Regions from separate parts of the Homo sapiens genome. Here region 2 is linked to region 1. The links come from fine-mapping of genetic effects on gene expression. Tissue or cell type: whole blood. Region 1 holds a variant in brackets; the other region holds the start of a gene. All regions are shown on one strand. Distances are from middle to middle.

Evidence for each region. PIP is the estimated chance that this variant, and not a neighbour inherited with it, causes the effect.
Region 2: ZHX2 starts here. The variant in region 1 is fine-mapped to the expression of ZHX2 in whole blood (TOPMed, PIP above 0.99).

Annotation. Positions count from the first base shown.
Region 1 is chr8:122,869,802-122,877,909 of GRCh38, forward strand. All of the region lies in intron 2 of ZHX2 (zinc fingers and homeoboxes 2), which reads left to right. Among named protein-coding and RNA genes, the nearest start is that of ZHX2, 92 kb to the left of the region's middle. The variant G/A (reference allele first, on the strand shown) is at 3,660.
Region 2 is chr8:122,776,889-122,784,996 of GRCh38, forward strand. ZHX2 (zinc fingers and homeoboxes 2) reads left to right here and starts at 4,767. Exons shown (of 4, transcript NM_014943.5): 1 at 4,767-5,058. It overlaps ZHX2-AS1 (ZHX2 antisense RNA 2), which reads right to left and starts at 4,716. Exons shown (of 2, transcript XR_007061082.1): 1 at 3,285-4,716; 2 at 996-1,309. RefSeq lists enhancers at 3,210-3,711, 3,712-4,211, 5,379-5,428, 6,084-6,618 and silencers at 5,479-5,548, 5,769-5,898, 6,679-6,758.

The DNA.
Region 1 (8,108 bases):
GTTATCTAACTTCCATGTGCTGTGCCTTCCTCATCTATAAAATGGGTTCCCTCATAGGGTAGTTAGGATGACTAAATGAGTCTGTGGAAGGTGCTTGGGGTAGTGTCCACCACAGAGTAAAAGTGTTAGTAAAAACAAAATTAATAAGTAAATGAACACAGAAGTCAGTATGTCATTGATTACTGGATTCACCTCAGCAAGATGGTAAGTTTCCTACCCACAGATTCAAAGTCTTTCATTCTGCCTGTGGGTTCAGGGAGGCTTTCAATTAGACCCTGAAGGAGGGGAAACCTGGGCAGAGGTGGCAGAGGTGGACAAAGCTTGGACATTTGGAGGCTTTGGGGAGTCTGAGGTTGCTGGAGCAGGTAGAGCCTCATGGGGGAGCACATGGCAATTGAGATGGGCAAGGTCAATGAGGCAGACTGCAGAGGCTCTCAGGTGCCGTGCTCAGGATGGAGCTGTTTGCAGGGAGCAATGAGCGGCTTTCAGAGGTTTTTAACCAAGGGAGTGATATGATGCAACCTTGGGCTTAGAAAGGTGAGCTGGTGCCAGGCACGGTAGCTCACGCCTGTAATCCCAGCACTTTGGGAGGCCAAGGGGGGTGGATCATCTGAGGTCAGGAGTTCAAGACCAGCCTGGCCAACAAGGTGAAACCCCATCTCCACTAAAAATTAAAAATAAAAAAAAAATAGCTGGGCGTAGTGACAGGTGCCTGTAATCCCAGCTACTTGAGAGGCTGAGACATGAGAATTGCTTGAACTCAGGAAGCAGAGGTTGCAGTGAGCCAAGATCGTACCACTGCACTCCAGCCTGGGTGACAGAGCAAGTCTCTGTCTCAAAAAAAAAAAAAAAAAAAAAAAAAAAAGAAAGAGAAAGATGAACTGGTCAGAGTGCAGATGGCACTGCAGGTAGGAGAAGTCAAAGACAAGGAAGCAGTGAGGAGATGGTGGCTGTTCCGATGGCCCCAGAGAGAAGGAGTGACCCTCTCAACTGAGCAGTCACAGCAGAAATGGAGTGGGGAACTCACTCCAGAGCACCAATTCAGAGAAAGAATGGACTGCATGTGAAGATAGAAAGTGAGAAAGGACAGGTCCAGAGTGAGCCTCAGGTTCCTGGCTTGAGAATCTAAGAGACTGATCTTGTTAACCAAGTAGTGGACAAAAGCAGAAAAAGTGGCAGGTGGTGTTGAAGGCTCTGGAAGCGTTGCATTTGATGAACCGGTGGAGCGGGCAGGACGGGGAGCAGCATGGAGTAGCAGTTAACAGGTAGGCTCAGGAGTCCACGTGGCTTCAATTCACATCCTGGCCCAGCCAAGTGCTAGCTGTGTAACCTTGGAGAGATCGTTTAACTTTCCTGAGCCTCAGTTTCCTTATCTGCATAATGAGGATTGTGTAGTGATTATTACCTACCTGAGAAGGCTTTTAGGATCAGCACATGTACAGTGTTAAGAACTATGTCTGGTACTTGGAACCAACCCAAATGTCCATCAATGATAGACTGGATTAAGAAAACGTGGCACATATACACCATGGAATACTAAGCAGCCATAAAAAATGATGAGTTCATGTCCTTTGTAGGGACATGGATGAAGCTGGAAACCATCATTCTCAGCAAACTATCGCAAGGACAAAAAACCAAACACTGCATGTTCTCATTCATAGGTGGGAATTGAACAATGAGAGCACATGGACACAGGAAGGGGAACATCACACACCGGGGCCTGTTGTGGGGTGGGGGGAGGGGGGAGGGATAGCATTAGGAGATATACCTAATGTAAATGACGAGTTAATGGGTACAGCACACCAATATGGCACATGTATACATATGTAACAAACCTGCACGTTGTGCACATGTACCCTAGAACTTAAAGTATATATATATATATATAAACCCTTTACATATAATAAATAAATTCCTTTCTCAGGGCAAAAAAAAAAAAAAAAAAACTATGTCTGGTACAGAGGGAGTGCTCCTAAGTGTGAGTTTCCATTACATTAGTACTAGCATTGAAACTGATTTTAGGATTAGTGTTTATCATCCTAGAGATGTCCAACATGGGCCTGGAGCACAGAAACAAGCTCAGGAAGGGATAGATGTATTGGGAATCAATAGTACATACAGGCTGGTGATTACCAACCTATAGATGTGTTCCTAAGGAGGAAGAAATGGGCATCACCCGGGTTCTTTTCAAAGCGTATCATCCTACCCAACTGCACTATAACCCTGACCCTGGCCCCTGCAGTCCTGCTGTCCTATGAAAAATCAGCATAGGCAGGTATCACCATGACCAATGGGAATGTGCCGCATCCTTCAGGTCTGCAGGCGAAGAAAAAAGATGCACAGACAGCTGATGGAGGTGACAGGTGAACCTATGGGGTGACTGAACTCACTCAGGGACAGCTCAGAGATAGAAGACTGCTGGGCTGAAGACAGAACCCTGAGGCAGCATCAGCATTTAAGATGCAGGATCCAAAGCGGTAGCTCCATCAGTTCACAGAGCTACAACTGCCCCATGTGCCACTCGTATGAAATTCACTTTGCCCTCATGGACTAGATATGAAAACCCTGTTGTAGGCATTTGGTCCATCTACAGATTCAGGGGCAAGTTCCAACCAGGCCCCATTCAATAGCATAAGAGGCTTCCTTTGCCTCTTCCTCCACTATTAGGAGTGGACTCAGTGTGGCTAAGCTAAACCAAAGAGATGAAGAAAGAAGTGAGAGAGGCCACTTCATCCTTCTCTATAGTCCAGCTAAAACTTTGCCCTAAGTGCCCTGGCCTAACCCCCCGTTCCGTGATATTTCAGAGCTCAAAGTTTCTTGGCCAAGGAAATGAAAACACCTATAACTCGTAGATACCAATACTTAAGTTGGTATTTGATTATATTAGTCAGACTTTTGGTTACAAGATGGAAATCCAATTCAAATTGACATAAGTGTAAAACAAAAAGGCGGTTCGTTCGTGTAATTGAAAAGTCTGAGCTGGCCTGGCTTTGCGCCCAGCTGGATCTAAGCAATGTCTGCAGGCGTCGTGTCTCTCCATCTCTCGGCTCAGCTTTCTTCTGTGTGGGATTTACTCAGACAGGTTTCCCCCACCGACAGCCAGCAGCTTTTCTCAGCAACCCCCGTAGAAAGAAGGCTGTGCTTCCACAGTGCTCCCAGCAAATGCCCTGGAATTGAGAAACTCAGGTCACCTGTCTATCCCCAAGCCAACTGCTGGAGCCAAAGGGTGCACGGTGCCAACTGGCCAGGCCTGTGTCACGCACTCCCACCGGGCATTGTGGGACCACATGGACCAAGAATGGGTGGTGAGGAAATTGGGGAGAGGGAATAAACCAAAGCCAAATTACCATATGTAAGTCCTGCACTGCCTTAAAAGCCTAGTCGTTAAGAAAAAGGAGTGACCGTGGCGGTAATTCTCAGAGCAGACTCAGTGGGGAGCACTGAACCTGGAGCTGGCCTTTGTGGCCCAGAACACATGTGAGAGTGAAGGCTAGGCAGTGGAATATTTCCACAGAAGTGATATTCCACATGCGGGTCCCCCTCTGTAGCATGCTAACCCCACGTGCAGAAGTGTCATCTCCCCCGGGGGCTTGGGCAGTATCCTCTGTATGCTTCCACTTCTCTCCACTCCCCTGCAGCCCCTGAGCTGGTGCCTGTCC[G/A]TACTTGGCCCCTGTGCAGCACTCAGTAGATGGTCACTGGTTGAGCAGCATCAGAGCGGGCATGCAGAGAAGGGCCCCTCGTCCTGCGGCCGGTGCAGGACGCCATCTTTGCTTCAGGTGATGCTCCCACTCTGGTGAGTTCTCTGGTTTATATTGCAGACAACAATGTATTTGATCTAATGGCTGCTATAACATATTCCCACAAACTTAGGCTTAACACCAGTTTATTATCTTATGGTACTAGAGGTCATAGTCCGAAATGGGTCTCACTGAGCTGAAGGTGACAAACAAAGTATTGACAAAGTGTACTCCTTCCTGGAAGCTCTCAGGGAGAATCCATCTTCTTGCTTCCCAGCTTCTAGAGGCCTCCCGAATTGCTTAGCTCAGGGCCCCCTTCCATCTTCAAAGCCAGCAATGGATGCTTGAGTTTTTCTTATGCTGCAGAACATGAGAACATGCAGTTTCTCAGACTCTGACGTTCATTGGCTTCCTACATCTTTAAAGGACTCTTATGATTACCTTGTGCCTACCCTGATAATCCAGAATAATCTGTTTATCCTAAGGTCAGATGATTAGCAACCTTAATTCCATCTGCAATCTTGTCTGTTTTAGACTAGTCAAGTGCAGTTCTGAGAAGGGGGAAAGAGTAGACAAGGAGTTGAATCTGTGACTGCCTGTGAACCATGCGTTGAGATCACTGACTACCTCCATCTGCAATATTCATTCCTCTTTGCCATTTAACATAAAATATTCACAGGTTCCAGGGATTAGGGCACAGGCATCTTTGGGGGTCCATTACTCTGCCTACCACAGCATTGTTACAATCATCAGTTCTAATATTCATCCAGCACTCACTCAATACCATTTGCTAAGTCCTTGACAAGAGTTTTGCTCTTGGCACCCAGACTGGAGTGCCAATCTCAGCTGGAGTGCACAATCTCAGCTTACTGCAACTTCCGCCTCCTGGGGTTCAAGCAATTCTCCTGCCTCAGCTTCCTGAGTAACTGGGATTACAGGCATGCACCACCACGCCCAGCTAATTTTGTATTTTTAGTAGAGATGGGGTTTCACCACGATGGCCAGGCTGGTCTCGAACTGCTGACCTCAAGTGATCCGCCTACCTCGGCCTCCCAAAGTGCTGGGATTACAGGAGTGAGCCACCATGCCCGGCCATTGAATCTCCATAACCATCAAGAGGTACAGTAAACATCCCCATTTTACCACTGAGAAAACAGAGGCACCTAAAAGTCAGTTATCTCCAAGATAATATCCACAGACCCAGTAAACAGTAGATCATAGTTCTGCCAGACCATAAAGTCTGAGCTTCTAGACAGTCAGCTGATAGAGGGTGTCAGGAGATTCAGAATAGAAGAAAATGGAGATACTTTTCTACATCAGCAGCAGGGCATGGGGCAGTGGGGACGTTCTCAGGTGCCAGACCACCTGGGTTTATGTCCCAGCTCTATCCCTTACTAGCAACGTGACCTTGGGCAGGTCACCCCACCTCTGTATGCCTCCCTTTCCTTGACTGTAAAATGAGCAGACAAGGCTATAGTGAATCACCATGGCTGGTTTTATTTTTATTTTTAAAGTCAAACAAATTCCTGGATCCAGATTTCTCTTTTTTATGCTTGTCTTCAACCTGCTTTTAGAGGAAGGAAAACTCTGTTATATATATATATATATATATATATATATATATATATATATATATATATATATATATATATATATCCTTTTACTTTGCCTTCCTTTTCTCTTGTCTTTTCTCAGAAGGCAGCAGGGCAGGGACCAGCTAACTATGCCTGGCTCTGTGTGGCCTGTGGGCTAAGAATGGTATTGTATTTTTAAAGGGTTGTAAAAAACAAACAAAACAAAGAAGAACAATATGCAACCGAGGTTGCATGTGGCCCACAAAGCCTAAGATATTTACTGTCTGGCCCTTGACTGAAAAAGTTTGCTGACCTCAGAAAGAACACAGGCAGTAGTGTCAACCACACCTGGGGTTGGGTGCTGTACTAGATGATCAGGACTCAATTGGACCTTTGGGTCATGAAAGCACCTTGGGGCCTTCCCACAGTGGTGACTTTCATAAGATTTGTAGCAACAGCAGCAGCGCCGGTAGCAACAGCAGGTGCGGTAGTAGTAGACGTGGTAGTTGGAATTTACTGAGCATAATCTGCTTTAATCTCCTCAACAATCCTCTGCGATAAGCATGACTATGAGCCCCCTTTTACACATGTGGAAACAGAAGCTGCCTGGGGGTGCGGGTCCCCCGCCCGTGGTTACACAGTGAGATGGGACAGAACCAGGATTGGAACGTAGGCAGCCTGACTCTGAATTTTTCTACATTGCCTCCCTATCATTGCCATCAGCTCTCCCTTCAGGCAAGATAAATCTTTGCCTTCCCTTGTTTTCTTCCCTGACCCCTTTTCCCTAATTCTCTGACAAAATTCATTTCCACTGTAAAAGGGCAACTGAAAAATAGAAGAGCTTTCAAAACAGCTCTGACACAGACATCTATAATTTGGGTTTTGGCATCCATCCATCCATCCCATTCATCCATCCATCCCTCCACCCACCCATCCATCCATCCACCTACCCATCCACCCACCCATCCCTCCATCCCTCCACCCACCTACTCACTCATCCATCCATCCCATCCATTCACCCCTCCCTTGATCCCTCCCTCCCTCCCTCCATCCATCACAACACAGCACCAGGAACTCATAAGAGCCCACATCTTCGACACTGACAACTGGGGCAAACCCCAAGTGCCTGGGTCCTCCAAATTCATTGTTGCCAGGAAGCACAGAGGGAAGCTCATTAAATAGTACCAAGTACTTGATTAATATGCTGCAATTCGGGCAGCACCAGACTATTTCAGCACCCCCTCCCCTTACCCCGTTACCATGACAATATTATTTTAACAAACAGCTCCTTAATATTAAATGAAAATTATGCTCCTGACAGACGAGCAGAAGAGCAGCTGAACTACAAAGGGCTTAGAGGGTCCGCCAGGACATTTTTGCATGAAGCCATCAGTTTCCCCTGATCCCTGGATGCCATTTGTTGCCAGAAAATGCAAGTGTTCTGGAGGCTGGGAGCCAACGTGATGCCAGGCCTTGGTTACAAGCAGCAATTGAGGGTTGTCACTTTTTTAATGCAGAATGTCACAACGGCTCCACGAGGACGGGGTAGCGTGATAGCATTATTAAACACTCCTTTGTACACCGATCGGCTAATTTCACCCCTGCTCGCCTGAGGCTGCTGAAAGCCTTGTTTGCTTCCCGTCTTGAATCGAGTTGGATTGTAAGACTGAGTGTAGAGAGCCCTTGCCTGTGTGCACCAGGGTGAGAAGAAGCCCATCTTTCCTCTGCAAGGAGCCATCTGTCCCACCCAGTCAATTCAGCAACAAGCAGTTGCAGGGATTGGGGGACCCAAGCCTCTGCCCTCAATGGGGGTGAATGTCAAGAGAGAAAAGACGAAGGACATACAGGCTACTCTATGGTAACCTCCATCAGTATGTTGGTGGGTTTATGTGCCAGGCACTGTGCTAAGCACTTGAAAGCAAAAATTAAGGACACATCCGAGATCCCCAATGGCAAAGATGAGTGAATAACTATAGTAAAGTGGAGAGAGGATGGCAATGGCAGTGGGTGACCTATTAGCTGTGTGACCTTGGGTAACTTACTTAACCTCTCTGTGCCTCAATTTTCTCATCCACAAATTGGGGATAATAACACTATCTACCTTAACCATTGCCATGAGGTTTAAAATGAAATAAACACATAAGAAGCACTAGAACAGTACTTAAAATACTTAAAACAGTGGGCACATGGTAAGCAGTAAATAAATGCTAGCTAGGACTGCAAGTTCCCATGGTACCATGCATACAATTATAATAATGGCTAACATGTAGTAAGTGCTTACTCCATCCCAGGCACTATGTGAAGTGTTGGAGTTGTACTACATCATTTAATCTTCATAGGCAACCCTGTGAGATAGGTACTATGTCATCATTGTTATCCTCACCTTGCAAATGAGGAAACTGAGGCTCTGTGGGTTTGCGGAACTTGTCCTAGGTCCTGAGGCTGGGAAGAGGGGATTTGAATCCAGCTTCATCTGGATTTGCTGCCTCATCAAAACACGAACTACAGTATCACAAAAAGCACACAAATGGTGGTACTCCAGGAACACGGGAACCTCGCTGGGGAGGCCTGTCCCGGGGAAGTGGCTGCAGGTGACTTGAAGGCTGATGCATTTTCATGGACTGAGAGGATGGGACTGGAAAGTGGAAGAGGAATTCTAAGAAGGAGGACTTGGGGGAGCTAAGACCTGGAGGAGGGGAACTATGGACTGCATTTGGAGAAGGAAGCACGATCTGGTTTGATTGACTCTACAATAGGCAGATTCTTGGTACCAAGTGGGAGCTTGTCTTAAACAAAT
Region 2 (8,108 bases), 93 kb before region 1:
GAATCAATGTAAATAAAATGTTTTCTTTTTTTTTTTTTTTTTTTTTTTTTTTGAGACAGAGTCTAGCTTTGTCACCAGGCTGGAAGTGGTACAATCTTGGCTCACTGTAACCTCTGCCTCCCCGGTTCAAGCGATTCTCCTGCCTCAGCCTCCTGAGTAGCTGGGATTACAGGCACTCACCACCACACCTGGCTAATTTTTTTTTGTTTTTAGTAGAGATGGGGTTTCACCATGTTGGCCAGGCTGGTCTCAAACTCCTGACCTCAAATGATCCACCTGCCTCAGCCTCCCAAAGTGCTGGGATTGCAGGTGTGAGCCATGACCCTGGCCAAATAAAATGTTAAATTAAAAATACTATAGGTAGTTCCTTTGCTACTGGGACAAAATTGGTGAAGGGGGTTTGCACATGAGTTAATTTGCAAGTCACAAGTATAGTGGGAAGCAGGCAGGATTTGTAATCAATCAAATGTGGGCTCAAGACCTGCTTCTAACTTATCAGCTGTATGGCCCATGGATAATTCATAAGCTTCTATAAACTTGTTTTCTCCCACAAATTAAGGAGACAATATACTATTCAGAAGGTTGTTTAAAAGATTAAATTACATAAAGTATAAGAAGCACCTCCCAGGCAGCCATGTACATGGTGGGCACTTGCACTCCCTATCACAGTGTATATCCTTAAATAATGGAAACCTCTGTTTTTGGCAACACCAAACAGGAACTTAACTCCAGTACCTACTGAGTATCTATGCTTGATAAATGAGTTCTTATTTGCTTAGGATCTGGGACCTGTGGCGCGGGATCCTTCATGAGCAACAACTAAAATCAAGAAAAGCTTTGATTTGGAGAGTGGGCCAGCTCAGGCATCATGGACCAAGAGGCCTCTCTACCCCTTGTCCTGGCCTCCAATATTTCACAATGCTACCTATACCCTGCAGAGTTCAGGGGGAAGTAGATCTGAAATATTCAGATATATGTGCAAATAAAGACACGGATAATAACTCCCATTTTATTTATCTATCACTGTGTAATAAACCACCCCAAAAGTTAATAATGTTAAACAACTACAGTCTTATGATCATCTCATTATTCTGTGGGTTGACTAGGTGGAGCTGGATGGTTTTCCTCTACATAATGTCAGGTGAGACTAGAGTCAAGTGGGAGATCGATTAGGCTGGAGCATCCAAGATGGCTAAAGTCTGTGTATTAATCAGGATCTCAGGTGGAGCTATTGTCCCTATCACCTTTGTTTTCACTCCATGTGGCCTCTCCATGAAACTTCGGCTTCTCACAGCATGGCAGCAGGACCCTAAAAGGAAGGAAACAGAAACTGCCAGTCTCTTAAGACTTGGATTTAGATGTCTCAGAATATCACTTTCATTGCATCCAAAGCAATCACAGGACCAGTCCAGATTCCAAGGGAGGGGAAGTAAACTCCACCTCTTAATGGTGATGTATTTTTCAAAAAAGGAAGGAAAGGATTGAAAAAAGCCATCTTAGAAGACTACCACACCTCCTAAAGCTTTCACTTTTTGCAAAAGGTTTTTATTCTTGAAATGTGTGTATATTTCAACTAAGCAAATATGTACCTAGGAATTTATCCTAAGGAAGTAATCGCAGATGATTCAAAAGATCTGACACAAGGTTGTTCATTGGAATAAAATTGAAACTACCCAATGCCCAACAACAGGGGACCAATTAAGTCCAAAGGTGGTTGAGGACAGTGTTTTAAAAGTCTATTCTCTGGGAAGCAGGTAAAATTAAGCTTAAATTCCAACTCCATTACTTAGCATCTGTGTGATGTCGAGCAAGGTACAGTACTTAAGCTCTTTAAGTCTCAGTTTCTATATCGGTAAAATAAAGACAAAATATAGATTTTTGTGATGATTCAATGAGATGATACATATAAAAGGCTCAGCACATGGTAAATGATCAATAATTGTGAACTGCTATTATTATTTATGATAGTCCTTAGTGCTATCATATTAGTGCAAATCTTTCCCATTCTCTCCATTTCCAGGCACACAATACTTCCATGGATCTTTACAGTTAACTTTGTGTTTAGTTCTGACCAATGAGTTGTAAGTGAAAGTGGCATACGTTACTTCCTGGCTGAACATTTACTTGTCCAACATTATTGATTCTGAAGCTCCTAAATACTGTCAGATAACGGTCTGTCTACTCCATGAGTATACTTCAAGCAAACAGGGATCATACCACATAAAGCAAAAGCCACCTTTGTCTTATTCCTCATTGTTTTCTCTTTATATGGTGCAAGTTCAGTCCATGCTAAACTCTGAACAATTTTAAAACACTGCAACACATCAGAAGCCCCTCATCCTTGCTAGTGTCCATGAGATCCAAGTGCTCTGAAGATATGAGAACCCAGCAGACTGTTTAGAGGGTTACCTGGCTTCCCTCCCACCTGGCCCATTCCACCCTACATACAATCTGTCACCCAGCCAGAAGCAGGTGGCAGTGAGGTGGCAGCAAGGGAAACTTGGCTTATAGAAAACCCTCCTAAGTGATTGATCATCCAGAGGAGGTGCAGCCTCAAAATAGGAATAGCTTCGTTAAGGTTTGGGTAATTTCCATGGAAACAGACAGAACTAGACTTATTTTAAAGGGGGGGGGGGCAGGGCGTGGAATAGCCTGCAAGGGGCATAATAAGGTAAGCGATGTAAAAATGTTGAAGTTGGTGTGGCCGGCGGGACGGGACAAGGCGGGGGAATGGGGGGAGGGTCCCATATTTTTTTCTTTTCTTTTTACAATTTTGGTTCACCCTGGGTGAGGCAGAGGTTGGGAGGAGATCAGGCAGCGGTAAATTCTGATGTTGATGGCAAGTAAATTAGGTTCTTAGCCGGTACCAAATGAGGCTGAGAAAGATGTGGCCCAAGCTGGATTACAGTCATCAAGAAGTTAACAGAATCCTGTAAGAGCCCCTCCAGGTCGCCTTTCAGGTCCGCGAGCATCACGCAAGAGACTCCTTCCCAGGATAGAATCTTGTTTTATGGGCGGTTAAAATGCAAACAAACAGACCCTACATCAGCAATAACCGAACAAACAGGTGCAGGCCATTAAGAAAGTTTTGCATATGAGCTGTTTTAATTTTTGTTGCAAAGGATTTCTGGGGAGTCAAGGGGTATGTCAGAAATTAGAGCCCTAGGGCAGAACTTACAAAAACCTTTTAGCTACTTCCTTCTCCCCGGCCTCGGAAATGAAAAAGCCAAAAGGTCACCCAGCGCATCCGCCACCCAGTCAGCCCCAAGGCCAGCCGTCCTCACCCCAGTCCGGGTCCTCGCCATTGGCCTCTCCGCTGCACACGGCCACCTGTTGATGCCCTCGCGCCCACAGCCGAGTTGCAAACGGCCGCTAGAGTTCGTTCTAATTCCCCAGAGCAGAGCTGCCCGGGAAGCCCCGACGCGACGCGCCTGCTAATCTGCAGGGCGGGCGGGGACTCCGCAGAGCCTCCCAGCCCCAGGCTCCCTTTGTTTTCTCGCTGCGCTCGAAGCTTCTAAACTAGCCCCCAGACCGCATCCCCTCGTCCCCGCCCGGGAGCTGCCCAAGAGTCCACAGGCCAGCCCAGGGGGAAACAAGGTACATCTGGGCAGGAATGCGCGGCGCAGACAGGTTGCCGCCTGAGATCCCGAAGTGTACCCAGATCCCGAATTCCTTAGAGCTCTTTAGCCGAGCACTGTGGCAGGAGCGCGGCGCCCGGAATACAAGTTCATGGTTCCGAGCCGGCGGGCGAAGGGCAGCGCGATCCCCCGCCACCTTTGCTCTAAGGCGCCTAGGGGAACCTGGGGGCTGCCGCGGTGAGAGCTCCGCTCCCACTGGGAACATTGGAGTCCCAGTTGCGAAAGCGACCCGCCTAGCTTCCGAGGGACTTCTCTGCGAGCACCGCAGGCGTGTGCATTTCTTCGAATCTGAGAATTCCAGCGAACTCGGGCTCTACCAGAGTTTAAGTCGGCCCCTGGGGCGTCTGTTTGTTTATTGGCTCTTAAGGGAAAAAAGTTTGAAGATCTTTAACCAGCCTCAGACCTGGCGCGGGCGGAAATCCCGGAATCTCCCCAAGCAAAAGTGATATAACTTCAAGTCGTTATATAAGTGGGGGGCTCCTTCTTCCCCTCCCTACGCCGAGCCTTCTCATTATCATTCCGGGAGTAAAATGTGTCTCGCTCAACATAGTTTTAAAATCGTTATTATTATTTTCCTGAGCCTGAAGCCGGGCCAAGGCGCAGGCAGCGCCCAGGGTGCGTGGTGGCCCCACCCGCGCACAGTCCCACGCAAAGGGTCCCGGGGCCCGGGTACCGCCAGAGCCGGGCCTGCAAGCGCGCCCTTCGGTCCCACGGTCCGCCACTCCACGTGGTCAAGATCAACAGTTTGTTGAGCTCATCAGTGACACCTTGAACTTTTCATAAAGAAAATGGGTATTGCACGGAGACGGTTTGGCCGCGGCCGCCGCGCGGGGTCGTGCTTAATATTCAATGATCTCGCTCGCGCCTCCCCCTCCTCTTCTCGCAGAAATTCCACCGAGTCCGTTACTGGGCTCAGACTTTTAAGTTAATTTACTGCCCCCCTACCTTGGCCAGTAACCAGCGCCTTTAGGGCTAGCCTCCCCCCCAGCTCCTGCCTGAAAAATGACATTTCGCCGGTGTCTCCGGAGGGGGCTGAATTTCACTTTGTAACTTTCTGCGGAACCCGAGCCCGGGTGGCAGCTCGGGTGGTGGTATCGTATGCAAATACGCATGCTGACGTTACAGATCATGTGGGTTTTGGCGTAGATTCCCCACTGATCGAGGCATTTTTTTTCCCTTTTTTTTTCCTTTTTTTTTTTCTTTTAAAAATTTTGGCCATCGTTCTCCGTACGGGGGCTTTTTCTGTCTGTCTGTCTGGCTGGCAGGCTGGCTTTCCCCCTCTTTCCCACGGAGCCCGAGCCGGGCGCCCGGTGGGGAGTGGGGAGTGGGTGGGGGGAGCCAGCAGAGTTCCATTTTGGAACGCCCGTGCCGCGTCTCCGCGTTCCCAGCCCGGGTCCCCGCGTTCACAGCCCCAGCGCAGGTAAGAAACTTCGCCTCGGCGCGGAGCCCCCCAGCCGGCGCCGCCGGCCCCAAACCCCGCACGCCGGGCGCCGGCCACTCCAGCCCAACTTTCCCACCGCCGCCGTCGCCGCCGCGGCTCCCGAAAATGTGTTGTTAATGGGACTTGGCCGGGTTTGTGATTGGAAGGGGGGTACGGAAGGGGGGGGGTGTGCAGGCTCTTTTTGCGGGTGGGAGGAAATGAGCGGATACAGAGAGGGAAGAAGATTTTTTTTTTAAGAGTTTTGATTACAAGTTTGGATAAATGGGAGCCAGAGCGAGGAGGAGGAGGAGGAGGAGGAAAAACATGTCTACGTTTCCCTATGTCGACATAAGCCACAAAAAAATATGGCGTCCGCTTTCGACAGGGCGTTACGTAGACCCGACTGTTTTTATTTATTTATTTCGTGGCCGTCTCCCTCCCTTCTTGGCCAAACTGCGGCGCTTTGTGCAAACGGGGCAGGTCCCGCGGGGACTCCACCGGGACGTGGCCCCGTCTCCGCGCGTTTTGGCAGGCGGGGGGCTGCGTGTGTCTGCTCCCCTCCCTCCCCCTCTCCCCTCGCTCCCCTCTCCCGGTGACGATTCGCCGTAATGTGGTGGCAGGAAGCATGACGCCGTGGGCCGAGGCTGCCTCTGCTCTCGTCGCTCCCGGCGGCTGCAGGCAGCGGGCGCGCAGCGCGGGCGGCAGCCGAGCTACCTGGCGGGGGCAGGGCCGGAGCGCGGCGCTGTCCTCACCCCCGCTCAGGTGCAGGGGGAGTCCGCGCGGGGCGGGGGGCCGAGGGCGGCCGCGGGACCCCCGGCCCTGCTGTCCGCTGCCAGCTGGCCGGAGCCTCTGCCAGCCCGAGCCCACGTTCGCCCCCCTGAACGGCAGCTGGCGCTTTTCGTCTGCCCCACAAGAGGTTAATCTTTGTTGGTGTTGCAGCTTCTTTGTGGCTTCCCCAGGACTTGTATCCTCGGCTTTGCAAACTTGCCCTTTTCCCAGCCGCTTTGCAGGAGGCTGCGGAGACGAAGATGAGCGGAAAGTTGGAAACCAGCAGGCATCACAGGACGGTCCCTTTGGCCTCGTAGCTGTGCTGAGCCTGGGAGGCGGAGGAGGAGGTGGAGGCGGCGGCGGAGGAGGGTTTGTCAGGCTGGGGAGAAAACTTGATGAGGAAGCCAAATTGTGATTTGTTCAGGTTTCCACCTGATTGATAGTCTTCAAAGCCAGTAGGTCTCTACCTTCAACTGTTTCGCGGTGGCCTTTTGTTTGTCTGGGGCGTGGAGAAGGAGAGAAGTCGATGAATAAGGACTTTCCCTCGACCCCTCCCCTTTTAAAGAGTGGTTGCTCAGCTTGGCCCCCTGGGACACTGCCTTTTAGGCCCTGGAGTTCTTCCCCAACCTGCTCTCTGATCACTTTCTCTCTGTTAAGTTACCAGATCTCCAGGTCTCAGGCAGGCCCCGATGAGCAGAATGGAGTTAGAGGAGAGGATTCCTTCCCCCAGCACTTCTTGAATTGCCCAGACCTCCCACAATTACCCTCTTAAAACCACACACACACACACTTACTCACTCTCTCCTTTATATATGGCAGAAATTAATGCCTGTAGAAGTGAAGGGGGTGAGGTTCTGAGAGCTCTTCAAGATTTGAGTCAAAAGGTGATTTTCTGTTTATGAGGGCAGCGAGTTTAAGCAGTTCACTCCCAGGGCAGTAATGTCAAAAAGCGTTTGGATGACGACCAAGTGGAATAAATATCTTGTAAAATGGCATGTTTAATAGTAAAAATAGATTAATGGAGCTGTCAAGTGGTTGAATGGGACTACCATAAAGGTTTAAGTTTAAAGGGAAAGTTATGTAAAGCTGTATACACAGCTTCTTTTAAGGCCAGAAGGGAAAAAATCTACAAGTAAGGCTGAAATGTGTCACTGACAATAATTGGACTGGTGATGTGTGGAAATATCATCGCTGTTTAAATGCTCTGCTCCGCGATTGTTCTCTTGCGCACTTGTACCTTTCCTTCTAGCCAGGTTTGCTGTCAGCTAAAGGATGCACCTGAAGATTGTGCTTCAGGGGAAAATGCAAGAAACCAAGATTCTGGGGCACATCAGCTATCTCAACTAATGTCCATTTGAAGGGGGAAAACACCACTGTTTGTTGGCACTGAAGAAAGGGTATTCCTGTGATGTAAGTGCAGTGTATCTTGACATGCTGAAAGGTGGCCCCACCCGGCGTTTCTCATCCACATCAGGACCATGTGATTTGGTGGGATGCTGTACACTTATCAAAAATAATCATGGCAATGTTTGATAACAGTTTCTAACACTGTTATGGTGTGTGAGGCACAATGCTGTATATTTTACGTGCTTTATCATTTAATTCTCACCACAATCCTGTGAGCTAAGTACTACTATTATCCTCCGTTTATGGTTGAGGAAACAGAGGCTCCAAGAGGTGAAGAAACTTGCCTGAGCGACACAGCAAAAAGCAAATCCAGGCCTAACTTCATAGCCTTAACCAGTCCATTGTAGCAGCATTCAGATACACGACGTCACAGTTAGAATAAAAAAGTAAAGGGTCAGGTCCAGCAGAAAAGAGGGAACAGTAGCCACTGTCCTGAGGTCCGAACTTCAGAATTTACCTGGATTTTATTCCTTTATTCATTTATTTAGCAACTGTGTGTTGATTTATTTATTCATTCAGCAACTATAATGTTCATTATACTAATAAGAACCCATAGCCATTAAGCATTTTTGTATGCCAGGCACTATCCCAAGTGCTTATGACTAGACTATTTTGTCTTCATGACAACTCTGATGTAAGTACTCTCATTCTCTCCTTTTTCTAGATGAGGAGGCACAAGCCCAGGTAAGTTAGCTAACTTGCCCAAGTCCAAACAGCTAGTAAGCGGAGTGGCAGCCCCCAGAACACACACACTCTGCTGTTGCAATGCAGAGCGCATAACCAGATGTATGGAAATGCTGGGGAGACAGAGCCCCCCTGGCAGAAACGCAAAGCACTGCATGCTCCAGACATTATGGAGATGCTGGTGGGATACA